Linked DNA regions of Homo sapiens. The protein of the gene in region 1 purifies or fractionates together with the protein of each later gene. This does not show direct contact. Each region holds a gene or a part of one and is shown on either strand. Other genes may lie near its edges. The genes, in order: TRMT11 and GALC.

Region 1 (12,093 bases):
AAAGTTATATGCATATTTTTGACTGTGTGAGGAGTGGGCACCCCAACCCCATGTTGCTCAAGGGTCAACTGTAGTTTTATATGGCATTATTTTAATCTTCAAATACAAAATTGTGATATAATTTTACTTGTTTTTATAAGACTTCATTGGGTATCTACTTTTATGATCCATTGTGTACAGAGTGATTTCCTGGGGGAACATGAAGGTGAATGAGAAAAAGTCCTGCTCTCAGAGGGCTTTAAGGAAGTGCAGGAAAGTGATAACCCAGTGACCAGTTCAGACCTATAATTTATTAATTATAACTAATTAATAAATATACATGATAATGAAACATATTTGGTTAAGATTATCACCACTCATTTAAAGATTATCACCAAAATTATTCACTAATCATACATTGACTATATACTGGATTAATAACTAGTCTTTGAGGTACTATTTATGTTTCTAATTTTATAACTGACCAAAACCTCTTTAAAGTAACTTTAAAGATTCTGCCTTGAACTGAGAGTACTTGAAACAGTCATCTGCTTTACTTTTCAGGTAATTATGGAAAATATTTTAAACTCTAGAAGCTTCAATAATGATGTGTGATTGGATGGAATTGAATCAAACTGAAAAAGTATTTCCTTATAGCTTAATGGTATTGAAAATGTCATTTTATTGATGATTTTGAGATTATTTGTGTTTATGTTGGTATTCATTATAATAACTGGGATCAGCCCTTATAATACTCTTTTCCTTTTCCTCACCCAGTATAAGTTATTGTATTGGTGAGCATTTATTATACTTTATTTTCTTTTGTGGAAGTAATTTGATATCTTGTACTGGTGACCTGTCTTTTTCCCTACCTTGACTGTAAAGAATTTAGTAACATTTATTAGGAAAATGAGTTATAATTTATTAGGTGTATATAAATGGGCTAGCAAGAAAAAGATATTCTTTATCTGAAATCTGTTTTAAAAAGTACTAAGAATTATTCCAATTTGCTTTTAGTAGAAGCAGTATATTTCTTTTAAGGAAATTGTCTTATATAATTTACTTGAATTTTTATTTATTAAAGTTATGTTTGGAAACTTATGTTGTAACCTTCAGTCTACTGGGGTAGAATTCTGATTGAGGTAGTTCCCTTAGAGCTTATCCAAGATACTGTTAGGTATACCCTCTGTTTCCTGTGGTTCTGAACTCTTACTTTATCCTAAAATATTCTCAAGTTTCTCCTGTTTTAAAAGTACAAAACTTTTTTTTTTGGCAAATCTGTAGAGGTTCTCTAGCTACCACTTTGTTTTCCTTTTCCATTTGCCAAAATGCTTCTTGAAAAACTAGTATAACTTCTTGTCTCCTCTTCTTCATCTTTCACTCTCTTCTGGCCATTATTTTCCAGCTTCTGTGCCTATCATTCTGTTGAAAACGCTAACAAAGGCCACAGATTTATAGCATTTGACAGTGTTGACCTTCATACAGCTGCTCTTGGTTTCCTTGACAGTGGTCTTGGCAGGTGGTACTTTTACTTTTTTGTTTCTTCTCAGTCTACTTGATGCCCTGCAATTTTCTTTGATTTATGTTTATATATTGTTTTTTTCCAGGCGTCTACCTATCTTTGAGCACTTCTCCGTCACACTGCATGTTTTTCAGAGTCATGTCGTTCTTCTTTTGATTTTATAAGAATAATTATAGAGCAAACATGTAACTGCCTCCTAAGTGAACAAAAAGAATGTTATTCAGCCTTATGGAGTCAGTATAAGATTATATGCTGATAACTCCAAAGTCTGTATATTCTGGCCTTCAACTACCTGCTGAATGTCCCCACTGCGTATCTTTTTCTGAAAGTTCTGCAGGTACCTCAAGGTACATCAAGATTGATATATCTTAAATGAATCTAATCTTTTTTCTTAAGCTTGTTTTTCTTCCTGGTTTCTCTGATATTAATCACTGGTGTCATCATCCTAAACTATCATGTCTCCTAAACAAGGAACTTACGAGCTTCTTTAGCCTTCCTTCCACTCCCACTTTAACTTTCATTAGCAATGTCTCCATTTTGCCTCCCTTCCTCATGGTCACAACTGCGGCATTTCCCAAGTTCGCTCTCTTCATTTCTGTTTCATTTATCTGATTCATACTATCTCTACACAGGACTGTTTACTGCTGGAAGAAAGGAACCATATTCTCTTCAACTCTATCTTACTACAAAAATCTTCGTACTTGAAAATATCGAATGAGTGTTTTAAGGCAGTTTTACTTGGAAGTTGACAGAACAAGATAAGTTAGACATCAGTACATTTTACTGTTATGTTGAAATTAAAATAACTATTTACTTGTATACATAAAATTAAGATTTTAAATGAAAGCAAATTTTGAATAAATGTAGGTTTCAGTGAGTTAAAACATTACTTTTCCTAAATGACAGAAAATAAGAATACTCTGTTTAATACTTTCTCTCTTCCTTTTTCTTTCCCTTCAGGAAAGGCTACTAGGAAAAACCAGAAGTGGAGAGGACCAGATGAAAACATTAGGGCCAATCTTCGTCAATATGGTTTAGAGAAGTATTACCTTGATGTCCTGGTTTCAGATGCATCTAAACCTTCCTGGAGGAAGGGCACATATTTTGATGCAATCATTACTGATCGTAAGTTTATTTTTATACAAAAGTAGGAGTAGGATTCGTTTTGTAAAATCATTTACATTTAAAGTACAAAATTTACCAACACATGCACAAAATGCCAACTTGTCAGTATTTCTCCCATCTACCCCCAGCTTCTTCATCTTGTAAGGAGAAAGTTATGAAGGTACTTAACTACCTTGTTAAGGGCTTACTGTTTTGTTTTTTTAAACAAATATATTGGCTTGCCATCCCCTGTTATATCCTTTTATATTAACTTGTCACCCGTTTTTCCCTTCAGCTTATTTTTTTGAGGCATATATTTAGTATTTGTTTTTGTATTGACTATAATTGGTTATTATACCAACTGGAGCTCACATGTCATTTGCAATTATGGTGTCAAATTTTGAACAGAGTTTCAGATATCACACATTTCTCTATGTGTAAGCATTTGTGTTTTTGTAGTGCCTGTTTTCACTGGCATCTCCTTTCTAGCATTACAAGAAATTTGGGGTTCTGTGGAACCACTGGGCCTGTGAACCTACTGAGCTTCAGGAATGTGCATGAAAATTTATTTTCCCATGCCTCATGAGGTCGTGAGTTTTTTAGGCAGCCTATCTAAGAATAGATCTGCCTTTTCTATAGTATTTGACAGTAAATCTGTAAAAAGTGGCAAAGTTCAGCCCTTCTATCTCAGCTCTCTTTAGTTCTTTACTAACTTAGATTTTGTCAAATGTAATGTAACAAAAGAAAAATTATCAAGGCCTTATGGTTTCAGTGTGAATATACTTTATGAAAATTTAGTTTTTTTTAAATTAACAGTTTGCTTTATTATTTGCTCTCCCACTCTGTGTTTACTTATATAAAATACATTTTTTTTTTCCGATCAACTTGAGAGTAAGTGGTATACATTGTGGCCTTTTACTCCTATACTTCAGTGTGTATTTACTAAGAATAAAGATAGTCTCTTAGCAAAAATACAGTTATCAAGTTCAGTAAATTGATAAAATACTTTCATCTACAGTTTGCCATTCAGTTTTGTCAACTGACTCAGTAATAGCTTTTATGGCATATATTCTCCCTCTAGGACAGGATCTACTCTAGAGTCAGGTATTGCATTTCGTAATGATATCTTTTAGGCCTCCTTTAATTTGTAACACTTCCACAGCTTTTCTCAATGACTTTTATGACATTGACATATTTTAAGAAGACAGTTGCTCCTCTCCCAAGTCTTTATGTTGTACATTTTCAGTTGGATTTGTGCATTGGTGATGTTGTGTTCTTCTCAGGGTGTCACATTTGAAGGCAGCATGGCTGTTTGCCCTTGATCCATGATTTGGTGACTTTTGACTATCTGTGTTACCTTTGTTTTCTGTCTAGCTCCATATGGTATCAGAGAATCTACAAGAAGAACAGGTTCACAGAAGGAGATACCAAAGGGGATAGAAAAATGGGAAAAATGGTAAGTGAAATTTAAATATGATGTGTTACTACCTTGAGAAGAGGCATGTGGCTTCCCCGTTAACTTAGCACTCTTAAAATTTTTCACTGATTTTGAAATTTTCTTTTCTTTGTGTAGTCCAGAAAGCCATGTTCCTGTTTCCTTGAGTTATCATCTGAGTGATATGTTTCTTGACCTGTTAAACTTCGCAGCTGAGACCCTCGTTTTAGGTGGAAGACTAGTCTATTGGTTACCGGTGTATACGCCAGAGTATGTAATCTTAATTTTATTTTTAATTTCATTTTTCTTACAATGTTTGCGTATCTAGTATAATTTTCTCTTTATCTCTTCTTGCATTTGGTGCATCTTTATATTTAATTTGTAATAGCCTTTGTTTGCCTTCAAATGTGTATAAAATAGTCTTTTTATTTATTTAGTTTTTTGAGACAAGGTCTTGCTCTGTCACCCAGGCTGGAGTGCAGTAGTGCAATCGTGACTCACTGCAGCGTTGACCTCCCAGGCTCAAGTGATCCTCCCACCTCAACCTCCTGAGTAGCTGGGACTACAGGCATGCGTCACCATGCTCAGCTATTTTTTATTTTTATTTTTTGTAGAGGTGGAGTCTCACTATGTTGCCCAGGTTGGTTTTAAACTTCTAGGCTCAAGCAGTCTACCTGCCTCAGCCTCCTGAAGTGTTGTGATTATAAGAGTGAGCCACTGTACTCAGCCTCCTTCTTTTCATCAACTGAATTGTTTTGACCTTGTTATTTTATATCAGGGGTTGGCAAACCACGGCCTATGGGCCAGATATGGTCCTCAGCCTGTGTTTATAAGGTTCTTGAGCTAGGACTAGTTTTTAGATTTTTGAAGTGTTGTTAAAAAATATCCACACAAAATAATGTGTGACAGAAACATACAGTATGTGACCCACAAAATCTAAAATATTTACTCTCTGGCCCTTTATAGAAAAAGTTTTGCCAGCCCTTATTGTACCCTACACTTAGCTTAGTACCTATGGATCACAGCTGTTTTATAGCTCTTTTGCCAGTCTATAGATGTAATTTTCAACAGCTTAGCTAAAGGATTCACGCTTCTGCTACCTTCTAATGCTAGCTTTAATATATATTGGCTATTATGATTATCTTAAGTACAATAAATCAAAAGCTAAGACCAAAATAAGAGCTGTGCATATATTTAAAGCCCTGATTATGTTCAGCATTATTGCTTTGAGTTTTGTTATTCAGTAACTATTAAATATAAAGCTATATATATTAACAGTAAAAGACAAGACGTTTGAACAAGATGGAATGTTTAAATTTGAAAGGTATTGCCAAGCTCAGTAGGTTATTTCTTCAATCTGACATAGATATATTTTTAATACAATTATTTTAATTCCTATATTTGTATTTGTATTTTATTTTATTTTATTTATTTTTTGAGACAGGGTTTCACTTTGTCACCCAGACTGGAGTACAGTGGCACCATCTCAGCTCACTGAAACCTCCACCTCCTGGGTTCAAGCGATACTCCCACCTCAGCCTTCCGAGTAGCTGGGATTACAGGTGCACGCCACCACGGCCCGCTAAGTTTTGTATTTTTAATAGAGACGAGGTTTCACTGTGTTGGCCAGGCTGGTCTTGAACTCCTGACCTCATGATCCACCCACCTCAGCCTCCCAAAGTGTTGGGATTATAGGCGTGAGCCACCGTGTCCGGCCAATTCCTATATTTATTATACATAATTATACAGTGGTAACTGTCTTTTTCTACAAAGATTGGTAGTCCCTCAGGCTTTGGGACCCTCAGCTATTTCTTGTTGTTTGTTTTACAAATGCTGTATTTAAAATTACCATGGCCTAACTCTAGTTATGCATTTCGTTATCAGCTGATAAGAGAGAATACATTTGTACCCAGATCCCTTAACACTGAGTTTTTTTTTGTTGCTAATGATCATCTCATTTAACCTCTTTTAGAAATGAGGAAACTTAATTCCAAGGAGTGAAATGACCTATCTAAAGTTAAAAGCCAGCTAGCTAATTTGTTTCCTTATTCCCAGTGCTGTATTCACTTAATTCGACATCCTGCCAGATCTCGTATACTTAGTACATGAAATGATAGGTGAGGTTTTATTAGTATTTTCAGATAAGAGTATATTTGTTCATGTCTTTGTAAAAAGGGTTGCTGCCTTAGCCAAACTGAATTCCAGCAACAAGCTACTTGCTTTTTGTTTAATTCAAGTTGTAGGGCTAAAATAAAAAAAAAAAAATACTGTGAAGTAATTTCAAACTTACAGAAGTTTCAAATACAATACAGAAAACTCCCATCTCTACCCTTATCCAGATTTTTCCAATATTAACATATATCTACCTCCCCCCGACTCCTGCACATATCTATTATCACTAATCTTTTTTTTGAGATGGAGTCTCACTCTGTCACCCAGGCTGGAGTGCAGTGGCATGATCTTGGCTCACTGCAAGCTCCGCCTTCCGGGTTCACGCCATTTCTCCTGCCTCAGCCTCCCAAGTAGCTGGGACTACAGGTGTCTGCCACTGCGCCCAGCTAATTTTTTGTATTTTTTTAGTAGAGACAGGGTTTTACCATGTTAGCCAGGATGATCTTGATCTCCTCACCTCTTGATCCACTTGCCTCGGTGCTGGGATTACAGGTGTGAGCCACTGCGCCCAGCCTATCACTAATCTTTTTGAAACCATTTGAGAAGTTGTTGGTATGGTGCCCTCTTACCTCTATATATGTCATTGTATTTTTCAGAAACAAGAACATTCCTATCTAACCATGATCCACCCTGCAAGTCTGGAAGTTAGCATTTATAACACTATTCCATGCAGATCAGAGACACCATTCAAATATTACCAATTGCAATCCATGTAGGAAACTGTGCTGTAATCATCTATCCTATCCTTTTTTGGTCTTCTGTGGTCTGGAATATTTTCTGTCTTTCCATATCTCTTGTGTCCTTGGAAGTTTTGTAGAGGACATGGCTTATATTCTGAGTGTTGACTCTCAACCGGGGCCATCTGATGTTTCTTCTATGACCAGAATGAGGTCATGCTTTCTTGGTAGGAATACCACAAACATGATCTTTGCAGCACATCATATGGCACACAAAGCCACTCCTCCTGGTAATGTTAACTTTGATTGTCTGGTCGGGCTCTTCTCTGTCAGATTTCTCCTCTCTGAATCATCATTTTCTTCTTTGATTTGTATTTTATGGGGAAATAAGATTACACTAATATCTTGTTTTTCATCAAACCACTACTCAGATTAATGACTCCATTGTTGACAGCCACTTCTGAGGTGGTTGCCAAGTGATTCTTTTTTCCATCATTTCTTTTGCATTTGTAAGTTGGTATTCTGTAAGAAAGAGCTTTTCTTTCTGCCCCATTTACTTCATTAATTTATTTATAGTGGTATGGAGTCATGGATTCCTATATTATTCATTGGGTTGTAATTTATTAGTAGCAGTATTTTGTTGCTCAAATTGTCCCAGATTTGACCAGTGGGAGTTTGTTTGAGCTGGCTCTTCTGTCCTTTTGAAATATCCTCAGTAGTTTTTTATGTAAGTCCTTCCTTTTTAGCATATCTGACTGTTCACTGTTTTGCAGTTTATTATTTAATTATAATCAAAATCATATGTGGTTGAGAATTTATTTTGGAGTTCTTTTATTCCTTTATAAAAAGTAATATTGGAGGTTCTTTAAACTGAATGTATTTCTAAAGACTTTAAAAAGTGGCCACTGGATATTTCTTCAATGACTTCTCTATTTTAGTAATTTTAGATGAGGGAAGATTTCCAAATACATATAACCAAAGTGATGTTTTAGAAAGGGAAAAGGGAGACATGTTTTAGGGATTTTTTTTTTTTTGTCTTAGATGTTTTATCAATGGATAGATTTCTTCTAGTTACGTGTCTAACACATGTGGGAAGACAATGGTGGCATTTATTTCCCTGAGTTTTTGGCCCCTGGAGAGGGTTATTTTCAGATCCCCTGATGTTCATTATTAGACCTCAATTGTGTCTTCTCTCTTTAAGCCTAAAGCGATCTTATTAATTATTAATAGTGAACTAAATTTGTCTTGAGTTTATGCTAGAAACATGAACTGTTTTCATATTCAAGGTCTTTACTCTTTTGAAAATTCTTTACTGTTTTGAAAATAACACAGTATCAAGATGAATTTGAGTCTAAAGTCATCTGTAAAAGTTTGAAATAATATTCATTTGAATTAAACAGTTTAGAATAGTTTAACTATGTTATATTGAAAATGTAGCTTTATATTGGACCGGGAATAAAAAGGAATTCAATTTACAATTGTACCTTAGTGTAGCTTAATTTTAAGTCTTTTGTATTTTTGGTGTGGTGAATGTAGGCTATTAGTTCTATTAATGAATTAATTTACTCTCAGCCAAACCCTGTTATATGATTCAAGTTACACATTATAACCAAGTTCAGGTATTATTTTAACCCAGGATTGATTGAAAAGTATAAGACATAAAAGCAAAATACTGCGTAAAAGCTTAGTTGTATATGGAAAATTGTGAGAGCTAATGATTGAAAAGGATTTTCTCACTGTTTGACAATTTAAATTGCAGTAAAGAAACTGCTACTCAGAAACTTCTGCTGTTCTTTTTCCTTCTAGTCTACACTCTCCCCACTCCAGTATATCAGACTTTTTGCCAGCATCAAGATACTCTGTGCATTTTATGTCTTTTCACTTTTGTTTATTCTGTCCCCATTGTTTGAGATGCCCTTTCTTCTTTCCTCAACTGGTAAAAATCTAGTCATTTTTCTAGGCCTGGCTTAATTGTCACCACTTCTGTGACACTTTCTCAGATACTTCTCAGCAGAATTAATCAGTCCATCCTCTGTGCTCTCATAATAGCTTGTTTTTACTGCTTATAGAGACTTAACACATAAAATTACTGTAGACTGTTGGTATTTGTGAGTTTATTATTTACAATTTTGACTACTTACAAATGACCCAGATTATGTGTTGCAATCATGTGTACAGGGCATCAATCCAGTGTGTACACATACAATCCAGGTGTTTGATGTCATAGGAGCCAGTGTGCTACTGAGTGAGTGTAGCTGTTTGCCCAGGCTCCATATATCCATTTAGCTTTATCTAATTTCATTGTACACAGATAACTCTTGAAGTGATTAGAAACAGTGTTTCTTTATAAATGATGACCTTTATAGAAATCCAGCTGCTAGTGTTAGTGATAACATGATGACATACTTATATTAAAATAGCACATTGTACCCCCCAAATATGTACAATTATAATTCATTAATTAAAAATTTTTAAAAAGGTGAGAAAGAAGCTAATAATGTGCCCCAAAGTAGGACTTGGAAATAAATTTTGATTGTAGTAAGGTGAACTTTGCAGTGCCTATAATGAGTGAAGAGAACATGTTTTTCATCTCTTACTTAGGAAAGAGGAAAAAGTGATTTTTAAGCTGTTTTTAGTAAATGTTCAATCAATGCAAAATCTGTTTCTCAAATGGGAGCTGAAATTCTAGTGACATTTGGGAAGTAGTTGAAGCAGGAAGATTCACAGGAAAATGAGTGACAGTCAAAATTGATTCGTGGAAAATCTAGGGGCCTATGTACACAATTATTTTTTTTTAATTGACATAGAATTTGTATACCATGAAATTCACCCCCTTAACGTATACAACTTCATGGTTTTTAGTTTATCCACAAAGTTGTGTGACCATCACCACTAGGTAATTCCAGAACATTTTCCTCACCCCCGAGAAGTACCCCACAGACATTAGTAGTTACCACCCCCCTATCTCTGTCAACCACTTGTCAATCTCTGTGGATTTGCCTATTAAGGATGATTTAGTTTTTAAATAGATAACTTGGATTGTAGGGGGATATTAATAAAAACAGGGAATTAAGATGGGATTTAGTACTGTCATAATGGTCCAGGCAAAATATAGATTTATGCCTTCTACTTAACCACTTGCGAACATTCCATTGGAATGAAATATATTGGTAAATATACAGTGAATAATTTTATTTTACTTTATTTTATTTTTTTTTTGAGACAATTTCGCTCTTGTTGCCCAGGCTGGAGTGCAGTGGCGTGATCTCGGCTCACTACAACCTCCACCTCCCAGGTTTGAGCGATTCTCCTGCCTCAGCCTCCCAAGTAGCTGGGATTACAGGCATGTGCCACCATGCCTGGCTAATTTTGTATTTTTAGCAGAGACGGGGTTTCACCATTTTGGCCAGGCTGGTCTTGAACTCCTGACCTCAGGTGATCCACCTGCCTTGGCCTCCCAAAGCACTAGGATTACAGGCGTGAGCCACCACGCCCAGCTGAAGAATTTTTTAACTGCTATTTTTTAATCTTTTTAGTATGGTGCTTTGGGAGTGTATTGTTAAATTAATTGGCTCATTAATATAATAGATTAATTGTTAAAAATGAATTAAGATCGAGTCAAAAAAGATAATATGAAACATGCAAATATGTTTTTCTGCTGTTAAAACCAAATGCAGCAACTTAGTTTAGCAGTTTAGCGTCATTCATGTCATAGATGTTAATTAAAATTGTGTTGGTACCTTGGATTTGATTGATAAATTTGCTTTTTGGGTTTTATAGTTATATTAGGGATCTAAACATGAAGAGTTTATATCTAATTTATGCTTGTGCATATTTAAGTGACACCTTAATAAAAAAATACTTTAAGTCAGTCCACCAGGAAGTAAAAAATTTTTTTCCTTTAAAAATTAGTATATTACTTAGTTTGACACAAACTGTTTCCAGCATCTATAGATCCTACGGTTTGCAAGCTTAAGGTTAAGGCTATATCTTCTCTCTGTTAGCACTTTTTATTTTAGTCTCAACCATGGTGTAGAATATATTCTTTCTACTGTACTCCAGCCTCGGCAACAGAGCAAGATCCGTTCTCTGAAAAAGTAAAAAAAGAATTTATTCTTTCATGTCATAAATGCATTGCATGAAGATTCAAAATTTGATGTCATTGTTATAAGAAGTACAACATTTCTGGCTATGTAGTGAACATTAAAGAATTACTAGATGAGGTGAAATCTGAAGTGCTCATTACTTGTTAGAAAGCTCTAGGAAGAAGTCAGAGAATGACTTCAAGATAATTCTTTCCACTGATAATAAAGTGAAGTGCATTATGAATGATGCTTGGGAAGTGGGTGATGATGGGTTTGAGCATATGGTTGAGGTAATAGGGAGAGCTCGTTGAAGGTCAGTGGGACCTAGAAAAGTTCATGAAAGAGTGGTGGTGAAAACAGTGTTGATGCATTAAAACAGGTAGCTGAGATTGTGGTCCTTTACATGAAAAACTAATCAGCACCTTTGCTATTTTGGAGCAGACCTTTAAGATTACCTGTATAATAAATGTGTGCAGACACCATCCAAAAAGGTGTAAAAAATTGCAAAGGAAAAATAAATACTGGCCAACACAGTGTTCTTAAAAGTACCCATGCCTAGTGAGTCCCCTCCCTTGCTGTTCTTTCACATTCTGTTCCATAGCTGTTTCTCCCACCTCTGTTACCTATTTCTTTGGCCAAGATTGATGCTAACAACCTGTCAGATGCCAGATTCTGAACTCCTGCTATTGACTCCTGCTTTCTAGACATTGTCATCATCTTCATCCATGTAGGACATGTGCTGTACAGTAGCAGTCTCCACCACTCATTGGCATATTTTCATTTTGTTTCCTGGTTCATATGACCAGAAGACTGATGTAATCTGTAGTGTTTATTTTAGTTGTAGTTTATTTGAATAATTTTACAAATAACTTTAGTTCTGTATTTACAAACGTAATAGAGATGTTTTTAAATTAGACGTTTAAATTTTAACAAGACGTTATTAAAATTTTACGGGCACTTCATTTTAGAGGGGAAAGTATATGCTGTAGTGGATTATACACTTCGGGAATTTATAAAAATCTACAGATGAATCAGTCCTTCATGAATGTCAAGGGATGTTGTTGAGTGTATTTTTGTCTACTCTTGTGGAATTCTGTAGGGTGGAATCATCTTGTACTT
Region 2 (12,093 bases), on another chromosome or scaffold:
TGAAAAAATACTCAACATCACTAATCATCAGGGAAATGCAAATCAAAACCACAATGGGATATCACTTCCCTCTACTTAGAATGGCTATTACCAAAAAAACAAAAGAAAACAAGTGTTGGTGAGGATGTGGAAAAAAAGAAATACTTACTTCATGTTGTTAGGGTTGTAAATTGGTACAGCCACTATAAAAAACAGTGTGGAGATTCCTAAAAAATTAAAAATAGGCGGGGCACGTGGTGGCTCACGCCCATAATCCCAGCATTTTGGGAGGCTGAGGCGGGCAGATCACTTGAGGTCAGGAGTTTGAGACCAGCCTGGCCAACACGGTGAAACCCCGTCTCTACTAAAAATACAAAAATGAGCCAGGTGTGGTGGCAGACGCCTGTAATCCCAGCCACTTGGGAGGCTGAGGCAGAAGAATCACTTGAACCCAGGAGGCAGAGGTTGCAGTGAGCCAAGATTGCACCACTGTACTCCAGCCTGGAAGTGCAGAGTAAGATTCTGCCTCAAAAAAAAAAAAAAAAATTAAAAGTAGAACTACCATATGATCCAGTAATCCCACTACTGTGTATATATCCCCCCAAAATAAAATATATATGTTAAAGAGGTATCTGCACTCCCATGTTTATTAAAACACTATTTACAATAGCCAAGATATGGAATCAACCTGAGTGTTCAACAATGAATGCATGAATAAAGAAAATGTGATATATATATACACAATGGAGTACTATTAGTCATAGAATGAAATCCTGATATTTGCAACAAATGGAGGAATATGGAGGATATGATGTTAAGTGAAATAAGCCAGACACAATAAGACAAATACCTCATGATCACACTTACATGTAGAATTAAAAAAAAAGAAGAGTTGATATCACAGATGCAGAAAGTAGAACAGTGGTTACCAGACACTGGGGTGGGGCTGGGAAGGGAAGGACAGGAAGAGGTCGGTCAACGGGTACAAAGTAACTATTGGACAGGAGGTGTAAGTTGATATCACAGATGCAGAGAGTAGAACAGTGGTTACCAGACACTAGGGTGGGGCTGGGAAGGGAAGGACAGGAAGAGGTCGGTCAACAGGTACAAAGTAACTATTGGACAGGAGGTGTAAGTTCTGGTGTTTTCTTGCACACTAGGGTGAAGACGGTTAACAGTAAGGTTTTGTGTATTACAAAACAGCTAGAAGAGAGGCTTTTGAATGCTTTCATCACAAAGGAATGATAAATTCATGAGGTGATGGGCATACCCTGATTTGACCATTATACCACATGTATGTATCAAAACATCAAATTGTACCCTGTGTCAATAAAAAATAAAAATATGACAAAGTTGAAATACTCACATTTCCTCACTTCAAAATTTATCAGACAGCTACAGTACCTAAGACAGTGTGGTGCTCACGTCAGGACAGATATATAAGTCAACAGAAAAAAATTGAGGTTCTAGAAATAAACCCTCAAATTTATTGCCAATTGATTTTCAACAAGGATGCCAAGACAATTCAATGAAAAAGGAATAGTCTTTTCAAAAAATAGTGCAGGGACAACTGGATATTAAAATGCAAGAGAATCAAGTTGGACACACATATAACCCCAGTTAAGAAAGAAAATGGACCAAAAACCTAAATTTAAGATTTAAAACTCTAAAACTCTTAAAGGAATACATAAATATAAATCTTCAGAACCTTGAATTAGGCAATAGCTTCTTAGATATGACACCAAAAGCACAAGAAACAAAAGAGAAAACAAAGTGGGCTTCATCACAATTTAAAACTTTTTTTAATTCAAAGGGTACCATTAAGAAAATGAAAGACAACCCATACAAAGGGAGAAAATATCTGCAAATTATATTTCTGATAAGGAATTTTTATATAGAACAAAGAACACTTATGACTCAATAATAAAAACACAAATATCCCAATTTAAAAATGGGCAGAGTTTAAATAGACATTTCTCCAAAGAAGATATACTACTAGCCAATAAGCACATGAAAAGATCCCCACATCATTAGTCCCTAGGAAAATGCATATTGAACTACAATAACATAGCACTTCACATTCACTAGGATGGCTATAATCAAAGGCATGGACAGTAAGAACTGTTAGGGAGGATGTGGAGAATTGTAAGTTTCATAAAACTGCTGGTGGCAATGTAAAATGGTGCAGTAACTTTGGAAAACAATTTGGTAGTTCCTCAAAATCCTAAAGACAGAGTTACCATGTGACCCAGCAATTCCACTCCTACATACATACCCAAGAGAACTGAAAACACGTTCACAGAAAAACTTGTACACATATGCTAATCCACACCATTAGTCATAACAGCCATGATGGGGTTCAAGACACACTCCCCGCAAATATTTTAAAGTGAAATAATTTGAGAAAAATGTAGAAGCAGGAAGTTTACTCTCTGACCTTCTCCTTTCTCCTCTGAAGCAGGTCATAAGACCCTCACTCAACAGGTGCTCTCCCTATTTTCCTTATCTCTGAAGACAGTTTCTGGTGAAGAAGATGAGATGCCTACTCACTCTAAGAGCCTGCAGATGAGATCCTGAGACACTGACAAAAAGGTGGCAGAAAGGTTAAGAATTCTCACCAAGGCCTGCTCTTCTGGATCTCTGCCTGAAGTACCCGATCGAGAGAAGACAATTAAACAAACAAACAAACAAACAAAAACCTCCTCATCCCTTCCTCTCCAAATGCAGATTCGCAGAAGAAAAACATTCGTTTGGTTTGTGATTCCTGTATAAATTTAGTTTTGGGTGCTCATTACCTGTAGATCCCTTCCTTCCCAGGGTCAGCTATTGCTTTCCTATTTGTCTCATTTTGTGTACTGAGAACCTGGCTTGACTTCCCACCTGTTAGGGATGTGTGAGCTGTCAGTTTTGTGTATGCAGGCAGCCAACTTCAAGTTGGGGGCCCCAAGAATATAACCAGACAAAAATGTGATTCGCACCCTATTTGCAGCCAGTTTACCAACTATCGCCAGCTCTGACAGGGAGTGGGGAGTAGGGAGGTTATCTGGGTCTTTCTTTTGACTATCCTTGGGAGTGGTTCTAGGTCTTTGGAGGATCACTTCTCAACCTTTTGACTACGATGAAGTGTAGATTCTGGGAGGGCTGCATCTTTTTACACCCTCTTTTGAGGATCCTCTTCATCCACGATAAGACATAAAAGGCTTATTGGTTTGTGTTGTGAGTCACTTAATAGACACCTTTGGTTTGAAAAGGTCAATACTGCCAGGAATATTTACTGTTTGTCCTGGCTCAAACCTGATAGTAGGATATTTGAAAGAATTTGTTTTTTAAGAGTCTATGGTCAGGAGTTGGCCAAACTGTAGGCTGACATTCAGAACCTGATATGATACACACACACACACACACACACACACACACACACACACACACACACCATTTTTTTAAGGCTACTCTGTTCTCTGTTTTGGATCTTGCTTCTCCCATGGGAACTTAGTTGCTAGAAATCCTTCTTCACAAAGCCCTGCTGACTATATGCACTTCCTATTCTGTCTACCTCCTTCTTGTTGGAACTTCATTGACCTCTTTGGGAAGCTTGAGATCTCCCCACACTGGCACCTCTCAGACTTCTTCTTCTCTCCACTGGCTTCTGCTTCTGCTTCCATGTTTTTTCACCTTCATTCTTTCATTCAGTTCCCTTGAATCCTTGATATGTCTGCTTTCAAGCCCCTACCTCCTCCCATGCCTCTGTCCACCTGTCAGACCTATTCCCTTCCTACTCAAGCCCCTCAATCACTTGAATTTTAAGCTCGTTGCTCTCAACAGACTTAAGGTCTCCCCAAAACAACCTGAGGATGAAAAAGGAAAAAGCCACAGCCTCCATATACATATCAGGGCAAGGGAAGGTCGTGAAGGTCGTCTCCACAAATATTGGTACACAGGTAACCTTAATTTTATCCCAACTGCCAGGAACAAAGTGGAGAAAAGATGAGAGCCAACTATTTTGTACAAATCAGTGAGTTGTGTGCTATGTTTTACGACTCATGGCTAAAATTTTTTAAATGAAAGCCATAAGATCTTGGCATCTGTCTGTATGCTTATGTATTTACATGTAAAACAAAAGTATTCAGTTTTATATTTTATTTTTCCAATAGTAAAGAAGTGAGTTAATCCAATAGCAACAACAAAAGTTTACCATGGTTTCAATGATGATGGTGAGGTTCCCTAAGCCATCAGTCAGAGCTACGTAGCTTCCTCCTTTCTCTAAATGGCCAACTGTCTTCAGGTAATACCAGCCAGGTTGAGTAAACTGAGTGGTATGAGCTATAGAAAAACAGAAAGTTCCAAATAAGACAAAAATGGTAATAATAGTATTTCTTTTGGGAAAAAAAAAAAGCTGTATATCAATTTGAGTCTGATTCATCCAAACAAGCTATTTTCTATTTTGCAGGAATATATCCGTCAACCTCATGTTTAAATTTTTAAATAATTAATCTAGATAAATGGTACAATTGCAAGAAGATTCCTGGAATGATGGGTAAAAATAAATGAACCTGTCAGTTCAAGAATATGATCAGTCTTTTTTTTAAGAATAAAATAGTTATTCCCCCCCCAAACTTGGTTCATCACTATTTAATCCATCCTAAAATAGCTACCAAAAAAAGGTTTAAAAAGTTAATAATGAATTTCAGAAACTAACTTTATGGTTTCAAACATATTTATTTCCACCACATGTACATTTATTGGTCACCTCCTAAGCTCGTCCTGAAAATGCACTAAGCAATATACCATGTCCCAACCCTTGGAAAAATCACAAAATTAAGAGTACATTAGTTCATCTAGATAATGTGGGGCCAACAATTTCAACATTCAAGGCGCTGATATACAAGTCTAACCTTAATTTTCTCATATAATTCTCAATATTAGAATATACAAGTCCAATATACAAGTCTAACCTTAGTTTTCTCATATAATTCTCAATATTAGAATATACAAGTCCAATATACAAGTCTAACCTTAATTTTCTTATATTTTTTGGAGGACAATTTAAGGAGTTTAGAATAATATCATGATTACATGATTAATATGATTACAAATCTGTCTTAGGAGAGCACAACTAAAAGGGAAAACCACCAAATTTAAGTTTAAAATAAAAACAAATTCACTCCAAATTCATAATTTTCTTCTGAAAGCATTTTACCTTTAAAGAAATTAGCTTTTTAGAAAGATTGTTAGAATTTTAAAACAAAATGGTAATAAATGTTTATAATCTTTTACAAAAAAACTGCAGAAAAGTTTCAACATTATTCAGCAATAGATTTTGTTACTTTGTTTAAAATATAATCACTATTAGTATGGTTATTATCTCCTCATGAAAAAGTGACACTATGCCATCCATCCCTGCATAATCTCAATTTCCCTTGTGACTAATGAATGATACTGTAGTAAAACTTTTGTGTTTCAATAAAAACGGATGTATTATCTATAGCCCTGTTCATTGTCTCTGAGCTATGTAAATTATGTCTTGTCTGGTAGAAATTTAATTAATTTCTTCCCTGTTGTGGGAAACCCAATTTGCCTCCATTGACAATTCATCTCCAATTCCCTTACACTACGAAAATTTGTGCTATGTTGACTTTTCATTTCAACTGTTTCTAACATCTACCATCTATCTGCCAGGATCCTTCATATCATATGAGTAACATAAAATCTTCAGTACGTGCTCACTTTTAAAATCTTTTGAGCTTTACATTGTTACCTATTTTGAAATTTACCTTTTCACAACCCACATTTCACAGATTTAGGGGACAATATAAAGCCATATTTCACATAACTTTCATATTTACTTATTCATTTGATGATTCAATAATACAGTATTTTTAATCATCTCCCTTTGATTTTGCTAGCATACGATTGTAATTGAAACTCTATTAATATAAGAGAACAAAATGTCTTCAAAGCTAATCTTAAGACTTCTACTCTGTTTATAAATACATAATCTTATTAGCAATTATCATCATTTGTAATTATATCCTTAGATGATTATTTATTTGTGTCTCTATCACTACACAGCTCCTCCTTTTCCTCTCTCTCCCCCTCCTCTCCTACACTTTTCTAAAAGCCTGGTCTTAGAATAATCAGAGAGTAGTCTAGTTACCCAAAATATTCTTATAAAACACTGGCAAATCTTGCTTAAAACTTAAATCTATACTTAAAACACGCATAGACACACAGTTTATATAATCTTCTCTAAGTTTTTTTCTGCTTTGTCTCTTAGAGAAGAATTTAGGGAGTGAGAGATGGAACTGAACCATACCTGATACCCAGACAGGAGATTCTACCACGTAGTGCCCACTCCATGGCTCCTGGGCCGTCATCAACCCGCATCTCCCATAAGGCAACTGTTCATAGTAACTAGCCACTAAATTCCATGCGATTGTGCTAAAAGATTTGATAAAAAAGAAACACCAAGACAACTTGTGATAAAAATGTAAATGTCTAAAAACCTGGAGTAAAAAGACTTTATCATAGTAATACACATCTACATAAATGACAATAAAAGGATCACCCAAAATAAGAAAATATAAGTTGTCTAAATTTATTCACATTTTGAAAAATCCAGTGTGGGGTACATTGTAATATTTTTAATGGTGAATCACATGATAAAAAATACAAATGTATTATGTGCAAATTTTTACTGAACTGTGGTATAGCCAGAAGACGAATCATGCCTTACCAATACCCAACACATCACAAATTTGAGTCAAATACAAATAAAGGCTTTGTGCATACCTACTTTCCTTTCAACAGTCAGCCTTCTTAATGCCCCAGTTTTATGACATAATTTTTATGAACTTGACTCTGAACTGTTCCAAAGTTTTACAATTGAGAATTATTGGAGTCAGACTGCCTGGGTTTAAACCATGGTTTCACCACTTAACCTCTCTGTAAAATGAGGATAATAATTATATCTCTCTCACGTGAGTTTGTAAGGATTAAATGTACTAATGCATAGGAAGAGTATGGAACAAGGTCTGGGCCGTAGTATTGCTATTAAATATGATTCCACTTCATCTATAAGTAGTAATTGGATCTAATTGCTGATCTGCTTTGTGGCCCATTCTTTCTCAGATGATCAGGCCCTAACAGTCCAGAGCAGGTGCTAAACCCTAAAACTTTGACTCTCTGCTTCTCAGGAAATCCAAGGACAAAAGGGAAGTTATTGAACTTGGTATTGTTGGGTCCCTCACAGATTAAAAAAAACAAAGCTTACCCACAGAATTTTATTTTTCCTATCAAGTCCTCATCCAGTATAAAAAAAAGAGACTGACATTCTTAGCAAATCAAAGCCTTCTAATTCTATCAGTACAAAGTAGAAATAATAGTCCTAATTTTCAAAACACCTTACTACTAGTGAATATTTTAAGTTCTTATAATTTTGCCCATGGTTTGCAAGATGTGTGGTATCCTTTCTGGCTAGTGATAGATGTATAACTCAAGACAAGCTTTCTGGAGGGCATTTTGTAAAATACATACAAAACCCTTCAAAATCTATGTATTTCTGACCATTCCATTTCTAAGAATACAGCCTAAGAAAATAGTCATGGGCATATACAAAGATATTTGTATACAATTGAACATTTCAGTTTGTACAAAGCTATTAATTAAAACAGAGACAACTTCCAATTCTAAAAGAGGAGAATATTCAATAAACAATAATATATTTTCCACATCAGTGTTTCCCAACTTGTGTGGCATCAGAATCACTTGAGGGCACTGACTAGATGGACAGAATACCAGGAGCCTTCCCTGTAGATTCTGATTCACAATGTCTGGGCAGCTGCCAAGGAGAAGGTATAACAACGAGTGTCTCGGGTGCTTCTTAAGGCAAGTCTGGGAAATGGTGCTTTATGTAACAAAATATTTTAAAATGCATTAAAAATGATGAAGTAGAAATATAGGTAAATGTGAGAAAAAGTTCCTAATGTCGTCTCAAGTGAAAAGCAGTTTTTTAAACAGATTCTATAGTATGGTCTCAATTTTGTATTTAAAATGTATACATGCCAATATAAAACAGGAGGACATTCACTAAAAATGTTTAGGATGGTTAGCTCTGGATCATAAGACTGTAGGTGATTTTGCTTCTTTCTTTGTACCTATCTTCAGTTTTCTAAATTCTCTGCCATGAAGATGCCTTACCTTTAAGACCAAATTAAGTTATAACCAAACTCTCCTAAGTGTCTTTTCTTTCACAAAGAGAAGAAAAAGAACAAATACAATATACAGCAACCCACATTAACATCACAACAAATACATAAATATTGGTTTGTTTTTGTTCTATTTATCATTGTTTAAAAAAAGCTAATTGGAATCTATTCACAATTCAAGTGTTTTTCAAAGCATTTAAGAAATGCTTCCCTTAGGAACAAAAATAGTTGTGTTCTCCCTTAAGAACATCTGTTTTTTAAACAAACAATTACACATATCAAGTGATGCCATGAGGAATCAATCAGACAGGCTGGGAAGCAGACAGTCCACAACACAACCAGCCTGGTCTTTTCAACAGATCACTGTCATCAAAAATGAGGAATAAGGAAACCACTCTAGATTAAAGGAGACTTGAGGGGTGTAACTTTTAAATGCAATATGTGTGTGCTTGACTATTCCTTTTCTTTAAAAAAGCTACAAATGACATTTTTGGGAAACAATTAGGAAAATCTGAATATAGACTGAGAATTAAAAACACTCTCATGTATGAAAACATGATACTGTGATCATGTAAAAGAATATCCTTATGTTTTGGAGACACATGCTAAAATATTTAGAGATAAAGTGTCCTTACATATACTATTTACTTTATAATTATTAAAAATACAAGTAGCTTGTCAAAAATCAGAGAGCTGCATGTATTTTGCTACATATAAATTATACCTCAATAAACCTGACTTTATTTAATATAGACTATATTCAAATATAGAAAATTAGATATAGATTAGGTATAGGTATACAAATAGATGACGCTAACAAGGCAAAATGTTTACAATCATTGAATCTAGGCTGGAAGAATAAGGAATTCCATTTTTTTCTAACTCTTATGTTTTTAAATTTTTTTTGATAAGAACTCTAAAAGGTTTTTAATAACTTACGAAGTCATATAGCCATTGATATAATTCTGATTTAAAATGCGACCCCAGCAGCCTGCACCCATGTCACTATTTAAAGTGCTAAAGTCTTCAGAAGACCAAAGCTTCTTCCCAGTCAACTTTGCATCTTTTGCTGAATGGGTTCCAGGATAATGAGCCCTAGAAAAAAAAAGGGTGGAAGTCAATGAAAAAAGGTCACGACGTGGCACTTATATACGTATAGATTTGTTGAGTATATAAAAATACGAGTCTTCTCCAAGGTTTTCTATTTTAAAACAGTTGGGTAGCTTCCAGGTAGATAATGAATCTAAGCATCTGCTTTATGCCCTTTTGTCTCAGCATGCCATTAAAATGACAGCAAAGAAAACAAAAGGGGATAAACCTACAACAGCATACAGGATAGGAAGGAAAATCATCAATAGATAAGAAATTTCAATCTATTTCTGGAGCTCACAAGATGGATGGAAGCATGTTGAAGGATGGAGGTAGCAGAGAGGGCCACAGCCTAGAACACTCCAAGAGGAGAATGAAGTAAAGATAAGATTCAGACTTCCCAGGGGAAGCTAAGGAGCTTGGGGCAATAGTAAACGAGTGAGGAGGAGGCCAAAAATAAGACTAGTGAAACCTTTATATAAAGTAGTACTCTCCCCACTACTCCTGTCCTTAGAACACAGAAAGATAGCTTGGCATTTACTCCCAGGCCAAAAACAAAAAACAAAACCCACACATGGTTATTTCTTGAATAAAAAGAATAAGCTACCTTGGGAAAACTAAATTACTGTATCAGAGCAGTGGCGGTTCTCAACCCAGATGATTTTTGTCCCTGGAGGGAATATTTGGCACTATCTGTAGACATTTTTTTCAACCGTCCCACCTGGGGTCAGGGATATTTGCTACTAGCATCTAGAGAAGAGAGGCCAAAAATGCTGCTAAACATCCTACAATGCACAGGACCAACCCCTACAACAAAAAAATTATCCATTGAAAATATCAATAGTGCAGCAGGTGAGAAACTGCCCCAGAAAATGAATGCCTCCTTCACTCTATCATTCGATGGGAGGGGAGTCAGTTGGTGGAAGTATAAATGCATATTCATTACTGCAAGAGTAAAATACTCCCATAATGATGATTGTGGAAGACACTGATTATAGGAATAAAAACAATAAATTTTAAATGTAAAATAGAAAATAGATTGACAATCCAATAAGAGAGCACACTAGCTAAATAACTGTAGGAATAAGAGCATCTACTTTTTAGTTTAAAAATTATTTACAAAAAACAATGCAAGCAAAATAATGGAGATTAAGTTATATCATAATTCTAATCTTTGTAGTTTGGTGTAGTAGTATTTATAACATCAAAAGAATGATTGTGAATACTTGTTTTACTTTTTAGTTATTTAATTCCCTTTTAGGTCACAAATCTTTTAGGAAAAAATCCTATTTGGTAATTCTTTATACCTAGTGAAGATGAATTAGGGCACAATATCAATTTGGCATCCCAGGATTTCATGAGTAAGAAAATAATATACAATATATACTGGAGAACATAAAAAGAAGTATTAGAGAAAAATGAGGTTCCACTAAGATTTTACTGAGTCACTAAACTCAGGTGAAAGCAGGCATCTATTCAATATTGCAAATCTACACTACAAAGATACCAACAGAAATCTAGCATCTAACAGGGTTAAGCAATCATTGTTCTGGAACTATAACGCCCAACCTGAAAAATCTGGCTACTAGTCTTTTAAATAATATAAATTCAAAAAATTACACTTTAGATTTATTCTTCTATCCCACAACTCCATTCTATTTCCATGAAATTCAGCTTTGGTACCTCAGCCAAATGTTAATTTTTAATACTCATCTAGTTGTCATCCAGTTGTCTAGTTGCCAAATGCATGTTTGGTGTATTTGGTTAAAATATATTTCTATATTAAAGAAAACACTGTAAAGTAATATGCTAGCATGTTACCAATAATCAGTAGATGTTAGGATTATGAGGAAATTCTATTTTTATACTTTTCTACATTTTCCAAATTTTCTATAATGAGCATATTATATTTATAAAATGAAAAAGTAACTTTATTGAAGTTATAGGAATAGGTGATATATCCTTCATTCAGAAAATGATGAAACTGTTACCACATTCAAAACCCAAATGATTTATTACATGATATGAGCAAAGAAAGGCAGAACTAATACTAAAATCTGGGTCTTTCTTAATGTATAGATTTATTACTAGTGCAACAAAATGTAAAGGCTCTTTAAGAATATAAATTTTTATTGGGAGGCCAAGGCGGGCGGATCACGAGGTCAGGAGATTGAGACCATCCTGGCTAACATGGTGAAACCCTGTCTCTACTAAAAATACAAAAAAAAAAAAAAATTAGCCAGGCGTGGAGGTGTGTGCCTGTAGTCCCAGCTACTTGGGAGGCTGAGGCAGGAGAATGGCATGAACCTGGGAGGCAAAGCTTGCAGTGAGCCGAGATTGCGCCACTGCACTCCAGCCTGGGCGACAGAGGACAGAGTGAGACTCTGTCTCAAAAAAAAAAAAAAAAAAAAAGAATATAAATTTTTAATGTATATAAGTAGGCAAACATTCTCTATCACTTCACAGCATTATTTTTCAAACTTCAATAACAGACAAAATTAAGATCAATGAAAGTAAACCAACTTTATAGTTTATCCTAACAGAGGAACATATTTGTACTTTAAAAAATTAGAATTTCTGGCCAAGGCAGAACATGACAGCAGCCCAGTTTCTGAAGCTCCTCAGTACTCCTCCTGAAACCAAACTGACCAACCAGATAAGGGAAAGGAAAAACTCACAGATAACACTGCCATCAAACCAGGTGACAGGGACTCTCCCCAGGAGCCTCGCAGCATCAGAAATGGCCCAGGATCAGCAGATGGTATATGGAAACTAGAAGTGAAAGGGGACTGGCCGGTACTCACACAAAAGGAGTAGACCC

The links.
Region 2: the proteins of TRMT11 (region 1) and GALC purify together in Homo sapiens (affinity purification with mass spectrometry; 2 studies listed by BioGRID and IntAct, with this or other methods). This does not show direct contact.

What each region holds. Positions count from the first base shown.
Region 1 is NC_000006.12:126,008,792-126,020,884, forward strand, and holds part of TRMT11 (tRNA (guanine(10)-N(2))-methyltransferase TRMT11), read left to right. Parts: intron 1-543; exon of another isoform or gene 544-643; intron 644-1,586; exon of another isoform or gene 1,587-1,848; intron 1,849-2,133; exon of another isoform or gene 2,134-2,400; coding exon of another isoform or gene 2,401-2,461; coding exon 2,462-2,626; intron 2,627-3,979; coding exon 3,980-4,061; intron 4,062-4,178; coding exon 4,179-4,310; intron 4,311-12,093. UniProt on the Homo sapiens protein: Catalytic subunit of the TRMT11-TRM112 methyltransferase complex, that specifically mediates the S-adenosyl-L-methionine-dependent N(2)-methylation of guanosine nucleotide at position 10 (m2G10) in tRNAs.
Region 2 is NC_000014.9:87,959,213-87,971,305, forward strand, and holds part of GALC (galactocerebrosidase isoform a precursor), read right to left. Parts: intron 9,279-12,093; coding exon 9,123-9,278; intron 6,418-9,122; coding exon 6,293-6,417; intron 6,287-6,292; exon of another isoform or gene 4,992-6,286; intron 4,932-4,991; exon of another isoform or gene 4,676-4,931; intron 4,300-4,675; coding exon 4,172-4,299; intron 1-4,171. UniProt on the Homo sapiens protein: Hydrolyzes the galactose ester bonds of glycolipids such as galactosylceramide and galactosylsphingosine.